3 linked regions of the Homo sapiens genome follow. The protein of the gene in region 2 purifies or fractionates together with the protein of the main gene of each other region. This does not show direct contact. Each region holds a gene or a part of one and is shown on either strand. Other genes may lie near its edges. The genes, in order: MYO1B, ILKAP and PAK2.

What was found.
Region 1: the proteins of ILKAP (region 2) and MYO1B purify together in Homo sapiens (affinity purification with mass spectrometry; one large-scale study listed by BioGRID and IntAct). This does not show direct contact.
Region 3: the proteins of ILKAP (region 2) and PAK2 fractionate together in Homo sapiens (co-fractionation; one large-scale study listed by BioGRID). This does not show direct contact.

The regions. Positions count from the first base shown.
Region 1 is NC_000002.12:191,251,755-191,255,410, reverse strand, and holds part of MYO1B (unconventional myosin-Ib), read right to left. Parts: intron 1-3,656. UniProt on the Homo sapiens protein: Motor protein that may participate in process critical to neuronal development and function such as cell migration, neurite outgrowth and vesicular transport.
Region 2 is NC_000002.12:238,197,076-238,200,731, forward strand, and holds part of ILKAP (integrin-linked kinase-associated serine/threonine phosphatase 2C), read right to left. Parts: intron 1-3,656. UniProt on the Homo sapiens protein: Protein phosphatase that may play a role in regulation of cell cycle progression via dephosphorylation of its substrates whose appropriate phosphorylation states might be crucial for cell proliferation.
Region 3 is NC_000003.12:196,826,840-196,830,140, reverse strand, and holds part of PAK2 (serine/threonine-protein kinase PAK 2), read right to left. Parts: intron 2,946-3,301; coding exon 2,808-2,945; intron 1,823-2,807; coding exon 1,736-1,822; 3' UTR 1-1,735. UniProt on the Homo sapiens protein: Serine/threonine protein kinase that plays a role in a variety of different signaling pathways including cytoskeleton regulation, cell motility, cell cycle progression, apoptosis or proliferation.

The sequences.
Region 1 (3,656 bases), about 47 Mb from region 2:
ATCTAAATTTCCCTCTCTCCGCCTTTCTGTTTCTCACAGCCCCCTGTCCTTTTCCTTCACAGTATCGATGCTAATCCACGAATACATATTTATCCGTGTCCATTTCCACAATGTCTCTTCCCCTTCACATTCATGAGAGCAGAAACCACATCTGTTTTGTTCAACATTAAAGATTCAGTACAGGATGGGTGTAGTGCCTCATACCTGTAATCCTAACACTTCAAGAGGCTGAGGAGGGAGGATCACTTGAGGCCAGGAGTTCAAGACCAGCCTGGGCAACATAGAAAGACCCCGTCTCCACAAAAAAATGTAAAAAATGAGTGGGGTGTGGAGATGCTGCCTGTAGTCCTAGCTGCTTGGGAGGTGGAGACAGGAGGATCACTTGTGCCCAGGAGTTCGATCCTGCAGTGAGCTATGTTCACACCACTGTACTCCGGCCTGAGCAACAAAGAGAGACCCTGTCTCTAAAACAAAAACAAAAACAAAAACACAGTACCTAGTACGGTGCCTGAAACATACTAGGCACCTAAACATTTGATGAGTTAATAAATGAACACATTAAATAACTAAAAGTCACCCCTTCCTTACTTCTAAAAGTACTGCATATAATTTTTAAATTAGGTCAGGTGTGGTGACTTACACCTGTAATCCCAGCACTTGGGAAACCAAGGCAGGAGAACTGATTGAGGCCAGGAGCCTGGGACCAATGAGACATCACCTCTACAAAAAATTTAAAAATTAGTTGGGCATGGAGGCGCACACCAATAGTCCTAGTTACTTGGGAAGCTGAGGTGGGAGGCTCATTTGAGTCCAGGAGTATGAGGCTGCACCGAGCTACGATCATGCCATTGCATTCCAGCCTATGCAACAGAGCCAGACTTGTCTCTAAAAAAAAAAAAGAGGCCGGGCGCGGTGGCTCACGCCTGTAATCCTAGCACTTTGGGAGGCCAAGGTGGGTGGATCACCTGAGGTCAGGAGTTCGAGATCAGTCTCAACATGGAGAAACCCCATCTCTGCCAAAAATACAAAATTAGCCAGGCGTGGTGGTTGCATGCCTGTAATCCCAGCTACTCGGGAGGCTGAGGCAGGAGAATTGCTTGAACCTGGGAGGTGGAGGTTGCAGTGAGCCAAGATTATGCCACTGCACTCCAGCCTGGGCAGCAAGAGCGAAACTCTGTCTCAAAAAATAAATAAATAAATAAAAATAAAGTGAATTATGACATTTTCAATAAAGGCTAAGTTATTTTATGCTGTATTGGAAAAGCCACCCAACTGCAGGCTCCCACAGCAAACACAGGTTTAGATGTGAACTTGATCAATCAAGAACTATTTATAAACAAATACAAAATCAATCCCTTTCTTGTACACCAGCAACACTAACCAGAAATGTACTAAATCATTCATTCAAAATGACCACAGAAACCATGAAGCACCTTGGCACAAATCTAACAAGCGGTATGAAAGAGTTTTACATACAAAATGATAAAAATTTCATTGAAGGACATAAAAGAACTATTAAAGAAGCTTATGAGGTTTGTGGATGGGAAGCCATTAAACCATAAAGATGTCAATTCTCCCTGAATTTCTATTTAAATGCAACACAATTTCAGTAACACAAAATTAAAGAAAAAAGCCCCACAAGCAACAAGCTTGTTGAACATATGTGCAAGCTAACCTGTGGGGGGAAACAGAGGAGAATGTGATGTGCATGTGATGTGTCAACTGACGCAAATATGGAAAATGGAATTTTGTGGGAATTCCAATAATTTAACCATATGAATGTGTAAGGTTACTTTCAACATTTCATTGTGCTTCAAATATTTTCTTTTTTTTTTTTAAGTTGTGAAACAGTTAAGTTCAGAAGAACAAGCGCAACCTGAGTCTGGGAAAACTGACAGAGAAGACAGGCACAAAGCTGGGCACTGAAAGATGTGCCAGTGTGATAGGGGAGAGGGGCTTCTGGGGGGAAGGAACGATCCAGAACAACAAGGTAAAAGCACAAGACACAGTTGAGAGTGAACCAAGTACGGCTCACATGGAATGCACATTCCCACAGGAAGCCAGGCAGTGACAGAACCTAAAAAGCTACAGTGAAGTGACTATAGCAGTGTTATCTACGAAATGATCCCCCCAAAACGTGGTACAATGGTGACATAAGTTGGGACAAGTGAATACTGTATCTTTCTCTTGGGAATTCACAGTACACAGTCACAAATGAAGGCCAGGAGAAGTCTTTCTGCAAAGAAACTTAACCAGCTATTCTAACATGTACCTGGCCAAGGAACCCTTTTTACAGGAACATTTACCAACTTTATGGGTAGGGTATTTTTTTGTTTTTTGTTTTTTTTTCCAACTTACTAATTTTTTATGGAACAACTCACTTTGGGTAACACTATACTCCAGTAACTCAGCCTTTTAAAGGTCTGAACCAGAATGAGGGCTTGAGGATTTGCAAAGGGCAAAAGATAGGGGAGAACAATAAATCAGACATAGTGACTGACAGGAGGAATGTAAGGGTCACAGAAAATGGGGAAGTAGGTGATGCTCTAGAATCCAAAGTCAAGATGGTGATGAAAAGGCTATTAGCACAAACAGTGAAGTGAAGTCCACAGGGGACCAAGTATTAGGTAAGAGGTAATAAATTTAGATTTCGACAGGTTTGGAGAGACGGATATCTCCCTAGAAAGAAAACTAAGCAAGAGGTTACAACTTGGAGTCAGTTTCTCAGATCCGTCCCCTGTTAAATTTAGGAGCTGAGCAGGTCTCAAGCACAATGAAGGGGTTACAGTGGTGACCTTTAAGACACTTTTCAATAGCAACATTCTGCCATTCCAAAAATTGAAAATTTGAAATAAAAATACCAATATAATCAAGTTCTATCTTTAAAGTGTGAATTGTGTGAATGCAGGATAAAAATAAACAATTCAAGATGAATTTCAGTACATGGATAAGAGGTTTTTAAGAGATCATGTAATTACAGATACTCAAGAGACATCTATGAACCTTTACAAAGCTGACATCAGGAGTCTAACTCTATTTTCCTTCCTGAATGTCACAGAATACCTGCAGAGTACTACGGCAAATAAGCCCTGAACCTGACCAACGTGGCAGTTCATACATTTTTATGAATAGCTCTCAACACTTTGAAAATTTCAGGCAAGCGAGAACTTTTTCATAGATGGCTCACTATATCAGGGGTAGCTCAAAACTGTGATCTACCGATTATGACTAGAAGCAGATAATATGAGGATCACAAAAATAACAAGCCATGCAAATTGGCATAGGCCCAATGTCTATGAAAATTAAGCTTTTCCTTAAAGCATTTAGACTGTGGGTCTAAAATGAATAAAACAGTGACCAATCACTCTGAAGTACTTTTAAGGGAAAAAATGATCAGTTAGGAAGCTAGTATATTTGCAATCTGAACATCACAAATAGCAATTCAGGATCTAATATAAAATGTAAAGCAAAGCAGCAATGATGGAGAGAGAAGGTGTACACTGGAAAATGTTAAGTGGGACCAGCAGGAATCTTGCAATTAAGATTCTTTGTGTATTTTGGGGGAGCTTTTTGTTGTGGTTGCAATGTGAAAATGCTTTCATGTAACCAGTGAAAATTAAGTAGGCAAATGACGTGTAAATGTATTATAATGTCGA
Region 2 (3,656 bases):
GCCCCAGCTACTTGGGAGGCTGAAGCAGGAAAACTGCTTGAACCTGGGAGGCGGAGGTTGCGGTGAGCTGAGATAGCGCCACTGCACTCCAGCCTGGGGGACAAAACCAGACTCTGTCCCCAGCACCCAAAAAAAGTATTTAGGATAACCATTACTCAATGTATTAATCCACTTACAAGAATTCCTAATATCCCGAAGTAGGTCACTTTTGCCCAAACATTGGGTCTAACAATCACAACGCCCGTTCTCCGGACAGACTCAAAAACCACATGAGATGTTCCAGACAATCACGCTGCATTCAGTGGTGTCACAGAGCCAGATGTCTTAGGACAAGGGAGGGGACATTTACAGGTAACAGCCCAACATGAAGAGCAAACAACCCTTCCGCTTGTACCAGGTCATATTTTAACTTTTGAATTAACTTGCCCATCTAAATCAGGTCTTTCCACTGCCACTGTACAAGGGAGGAAGTCTTCTTTTACCCAGGTAATAAATATATTTTCAGTTCTTGTAAGCATTCCTCACAATGCAACTTACAGCTTAGTATTAATACTAGCCTGGCCGCCTCTCCTCTGGCTACAATTCAGTCAGATGGTGCCCCAAACTGAGCCCCATCCCCAGAGAACTGCCTATCACCTTCTTTCTCACTCTGGAATACTATGAGAGGTATTTCAATTAAACACAATGAGACCATCCTACATTTTGCTGGCCACAACTGGGAATGGCTTCTAAAAATGATAATACTGCCTGCCTGTCAGGCACTATTCTAAGAGCTCCACACATCTTCTCATTTAATTCTTATGAGATAGGTACTATTATTATTTACCGATGAAAAAACTGAGGCACTGAGGTCAATTACCTGTTCAAGATCACAGAGCCAGTAAGGAGTGGAGTGGGGATTCAAAGCCATGCAGTCCGTGCTTTTAGTGAGGTACTATGCTGCCTCCATACATGGGCACCCTTCCAGAAACTTCATAAACATCAACTCATTTTACCCTTACAACAATCCTATGATGATAATCCTGAGATTTTATAAAATCTCTGGAAATAATTTTTGCATCATCAAAAGAATCTAACTTAGAAGTCTGTATGTGGATTCTTTAAAAAAAAATCTATAGGTCATAGATACATAAGGAAACTACTGATTAGTCAAAACCTTAGATTTTTTTTTTTTTAAATTGAGACAAGAGTCTCGCTCTGTGAGCCAGGTTGGAGTGCAGTGGTGTGATCACAGCTCACTGCAGCCCCAACCTTCTGGGCTCAAGCAATCCTCCCTCGTCAGATTCCCGAGTAGCTGAAACTACAGGCATACACCACCATGCCCAGCTAATTTTTTAACTTTTTGTAGAGACGGGGTCTCACTATGTTGCCCAGGTTGGTCACGAACTACTGTACTCAAGCAATCTTCCTGCCTCAGCATCCCAAAGTGCTGGGATTACAGATGTGACCCACTGCTCCAGGCCCTTACATTCTATTTTGAATAAACTGAAATTCAAAGCATTGGGGGCTGCAATCATTGGACAAAGTGTGACCCTGACCTAAAAATCTGGAAGAGGCCCCTCCCCTAATCTTAAAAATATTAGAACCCTAATAAGAATACAAGACTAAAAATGTCCATTAATCATAGTTAATCTCATCTAGAACTTTTTTTTTTCCTCAGTTATCTACATTCTGGAGCTAAGTCTACTGGAAGTTATATACTATGCTGAGAAAAATACCCTTGGGTTGATCATATTCAGGTTAAAGGTTGCTGTATCCAATAAAGTTAAAAAAGGATGTTAAAATATTTTGGCTAAATTGTTTTTTATACCTCAATTTTTTCAACTATAAAATAAATCCAGGTGTTTTCCAAACACCACAGAGGTATTATCAGAAAAAAGGGGGGACAGGTTCCGCCACACCCCCCAACCACAGTATGAGTTTAGTGTATCCTTTCCACTTTCCTTAATGCTCATGCACATGGACTCATGCATTTTAATTTGTAGAAGACAGAGTCATACTCTACACAATACTCCACATATAGTGTTCACATAACCCATCAAGGCATGCTCCAGGCCAACACACCCAAGTCTAATTCATCCTCTCCAACAGCCACACATGGGAAGCATCTCCACTCATTCGACCAGATCCTTACTGATGGGTTCAAGCTTTTCCCAGTTCTTCATATGATAAGTGACGCCACAATCAACAATCTGATACATGTATTCCTGCTTAATCTGCTAGACTGCTCGTCAAAGGATATTAGTTTAAATCTGATAGAAGCCAAAATCTGTTCCCCAAAAAGTTGTAATTTTCACTCCCAAAACACTTTATGAGAAAGTCTACTTCGCTACACATTCACCAATGTTACCAACTGTTGCTAATCTGATGGGTGAAAAGGTAAATAGTTCCTCAGCAACTTTCTGTTGATGGGCCATTTGTATTCCTTACCTCTGAACTGGGAGGATACATCCTTTGACCATTTTTCTAGTGGGTTTTATTTTTTCCCATCAATTCTGTGAGCCTTTCTTATACCCTTAGTAATGTATATTGCAATTATTTTCTCGGTTTGTCTTTTGCCTTTATAGTATCATTTGTCCTGCAGAAATTTTAAATTTTTACATAGTCAAATTCACTTTTTTATGACTTTTTTCTTGTTCAACCCTGTAGTTTTACAATCTGTTTTCCTCTAATACCTTAACCTTTATGTTCAAATATTCTTCTTTTTTTTTTTTAATCGTAGAGACAGGGGTCTCACGAAGTTGTGCCAGGCTCTTCTCAAATTCCTGGCCTCAAGCCATCCTCCTGCCTTGTTCCCCCAAAGCGCTGGGATTACAAGTATGCGCCATCGAGCCCAGCCTCCAATTTTTTTAAAGTATTTTTAAGATGGTGTGGCCATCAAATATTTTATTTCCTCCTCAACAACTGACCATCAATTTTTAAAGTACTAGTGTAGCAACCAAATAAGTAAAAGAACCACCCTATAAAAGTGAAATCAAGTTACTGGCGAAGCAATTTTAAACCATGACACCTTCAACTGACATACATGGATTGTCAATATAAGCTGCCAATCTTAAAGACATCAGGTCGGCACTTTTATGGGTATGACATAGGAAAGTTCCATTTCTGCCTGATATGAACAAACACTTTTTTTTAGGTAAAATATATACATCTCTCCTTTAAAAAACTTGATTCATTCAGCAATTAAAACTTTTAAGGGCTTGGATGAAAACTACTAATTTAGCAAAATACCTGAAATATTTAGTGCATTCTATGTATTTTTCTAGATTATAAACATTTAAGAGGTTTAGGGGTGGGAACATTAGATGCAACGTTTAAAACAAAAATAAAAAGATCTAAACAAAATATTAATACATTTGATGTGATATAAGCAGTGTAGTATTCTCCCTTTGGACACTCAGTGCTTTCCCATAATTCATTTAAGACTGCGTTTTTCCACTTTTAAACAACTGTTAATGGCTCAGCCAGGCACAGTGGCTTACCACTGTAATCCCAGCACTCTGGGAGGGCCAAGGTGGGCAGAACACTTGAGCCCCAGGAGTTCGAGAGCAGCCTGGGCAACATGGCAAAGCCTTGTCTCTACAAAACATACAAAAATTAGCTGGCTGTGGTGGTGCGCACCTGTAGTCCCAGCTACCAAGGAGGCTGAGGTGGAA
Region 3 (3,301 bases), on a different chromosome or scaffold from region 2:
AATGGAAATAAAACCTGCCAGTTTCTCCAATGTATACTACAACAGCAAAATTATTTTTTATTCATGATTTATACTACTGCAGGATGGCAAGCAGGGGGGAAGTTAATGGGGGAAGGGGATGGTGGGAACAAAATGCCAGAACCAAACCACAGATACTTGAACAACACCCACTCCAAAAGCAAAACAATGAATAAAGGAGAAGAAGAGGAGAGGAAAAAAGAGAAGAGAAAAGGGAGGGGAGGGGAGAAGGGAGGGCACTCAAATAATTAATGCTACAGGTCTCAGACCTTTTAGAATCTTTAAAAGAAACAAATTATTGCTATCAACACGCACATTTCATTTTCCTTTCTCGTTTTTTACAATAGTCTCTACTTATTTGAAAAAACAAAACAAAACTAAACTAAAGTAACTCAACATCTCAAATGATCTATAAATTCATCAAGAAATACTCTGTCGCTCAAGTTCTCATAGATAATACCACACTGCTGACGACCTGGGGCAATGCCACCGCCGCCAAGTCTCTACAGTCGATTTGCTATCGGCTGCTTCTCTGTAACACTAACATTCTCTTTCATGAGTATAATCTCTTCTCACTGTATCAGAGCTCACCAAGGTTCACATCTCTTACTGCCTCTGCTGCTAGTCCCAAATATTTTTCTCCTTTAAGTGGAAAAAAGCTAATTTTTAAATTCCTGAAAATTCACTGGTTATTATATTATTTGCCATGGGAGGGGGTATCTGTGAGGTGAGAGAGGATTAATGAAAAAGAAAAAGAACAAACCTAAACCTAAAATTGCAACATATACAGAAATTTATTTCCAAATTGAAGGGGGAAAGGAGGGAAGAAGGTAGTGGCACTAACCAAAGTCACAAAGCCCAGGTTGGAACAACAACAAATCACTTTGGTTCCTAGAGCCAAGCCTGAAGGGGAAACAGGCAGAAGGGAAGACAAAATGGGAAGAAGTCTACAGTCAATGGGAATCTTTTTCTATCTCAATGATTTAGTTATAAATAGAGATTATTAGTCTTCTCTCTATACATGTAACAAATGCCGAACTTACTACCACGAAATTTCTAAAACTGACTTTTTCACATTTGTTAAAAAAGGTAAAAATCACATACTTTTCTTCCCTTCCTTCAGGTCAAGTTCTGAACTAAAATATTACATGTAACAACAGCTGGTCCTAACTTTTATACAAAGTGAAACTATATAGAGCTCCTTTGCCAACATAAGGAGCTACATAATTTCTATTACACTTGCCTAGGCATGAGAAACGCAAAAGCAACTCAAAAGGAGCAAGTCCAGGAAAAGAAAAGCTATGAAGGAGAGAAAGACTAGCAGATGAAACACATACTCTGAAAAACTCCAATCTGCCATTCAAGTATTGGAAATACCCCAAAGGGGACAATGAATGGGATCTATTACAACAAAGTCAGCAAAGTAAAATGCAAATCTCACACATGATAAATGGCCCTGATAGGCTGTTTGCTGAAAGACCTAAGGCTAGTGATTCAGTCCACAATTCCTTCTGGACCCTAAAGAAGGGGTTCATATAAAAGTCATACTTGTCTTTTTGCAATTTTCTCTTGGTTGTCTTCAGAGAATAGTCATTTGCTTCTTTCATTCAGGTTATGCAGACCATTTCTTTAAACCCCAAAAAGAGTAATAATTTTCATATACTAAAAGGCTTCTTGTAGAAAATGGAAAAAAGAGTATGAGGCCACAGCAGTGATGTTAACGGTTACTCTTCATTGCTTCTTTAGCTGCCATGATCAGTGGTGTCAAGCTAGATAACGGTTTGGCCAGTTTCAGGAAAGGATGCTGCCAGAAAGAAGGGGAAAAATAAATGTATAAGTGCCATTCATCAGGTTAGAAACAAAATAATTTTGTTCAATTAAGCCCCAAAGACTACTTGTCGATCATAATTTAATAAACTAAACACATATTAATACCTTCATAAGACTAACATAATCAACGCATTACTTTCAGAGTTGAATGAAAGCAGAATCATTTTAGTTTGACAAATATACACACAACAGCAATAAACAGGTCTGAGGAGTGATACGATGCACAAACTGTAAACAGGTCTGAGGATTGATACGATGCACAAACTGTAAACAGGTCTGAGGATTGATACGATGCACAAACTGTAAACAGGTCTGAGGATTGATACGATGCACAAACTGTAAACAGGTCTGAGGATTGATACGATGCACAAACTGTAAACAGGTCTGAGGATTGATACGATGCACAAACTGTAAACAGGTCTGAGGATTGATACGATGCACAAACTGTAAACAGGTCTGAGGATTGATACGATGCACAAACTGCACATTACGGTTTTGTCAGAATTTTATTCACAGCAGATGAAACCCTCACTTTTTTTTTTAATACTTTAAGTTCTAGGGTACATGCGCACAACGTGCAGGTTTGTTACATATGTACACATGTGCCATGTTGCTGTGCTGCACCTGTTAACTCATCATTTACATTAGGTATATCTCCTAATGCTATCCCTCCCCACTCCCCCCACCCCACAACAGGCCCCGGTGTGTGATGTTCCCCTTCCTGTGTCCAGGTGTTCTCATTGTTCAATTCCCACCTATGAGTGGGAACATGCAGTGTTTGGTTTTCTGTCCTTGCGGTAGTTTGCTCAGCATGGTAGGATGAAACCCTAAATTGCAGCAGCTGCCATACCGCTGGTGATCAATGAGTAGTGAAATCTACTTATTAGCCCTAGGAAAGCTTTCTGTCGGTTACCAAAAAAGTCAACTATTCCCCCAAATGAAATCATTTTTAAATTTACCTGTAATAATTCTTTGGCTGAACCCCTTTTTTCCACATCCATTTCCAAACATCGATTTAAGAAATCCCGAAATATTGGGGAAAGTTTCTCTGGATTCTGAAGTTCTGGGGTTCCATTAGTTGCTATTAGGTACAAGGCCTAAAAATAGAAGAACATCTTTGATCCACTTAAGATAGCTCAACACGGTCACAGAGCACTCCATAAAGTCTAAGGGATTCTTTCTTCTTTAAAGAAAATCACCATAAATACTAAACTGGGGTTATCATTATCCCATTTAAATTTAGATTTGATACTTTCCTCTTATTTTTAGATGTTACATTTCCTTAAGTTACTTTTCTGAAATCAGATTCACCTTTGGTTTTTCTTCGGTTATAAATGCAATACATATTGCTTTTGTTTTGTTTTTTTTTGTTGAGACGGAATCTTGCTCTGTCACCCAGGCTGGAGTGCAGTGGTGCAATCTTGGCTCACTGCAACCTCTGCCTCCTGGGTTC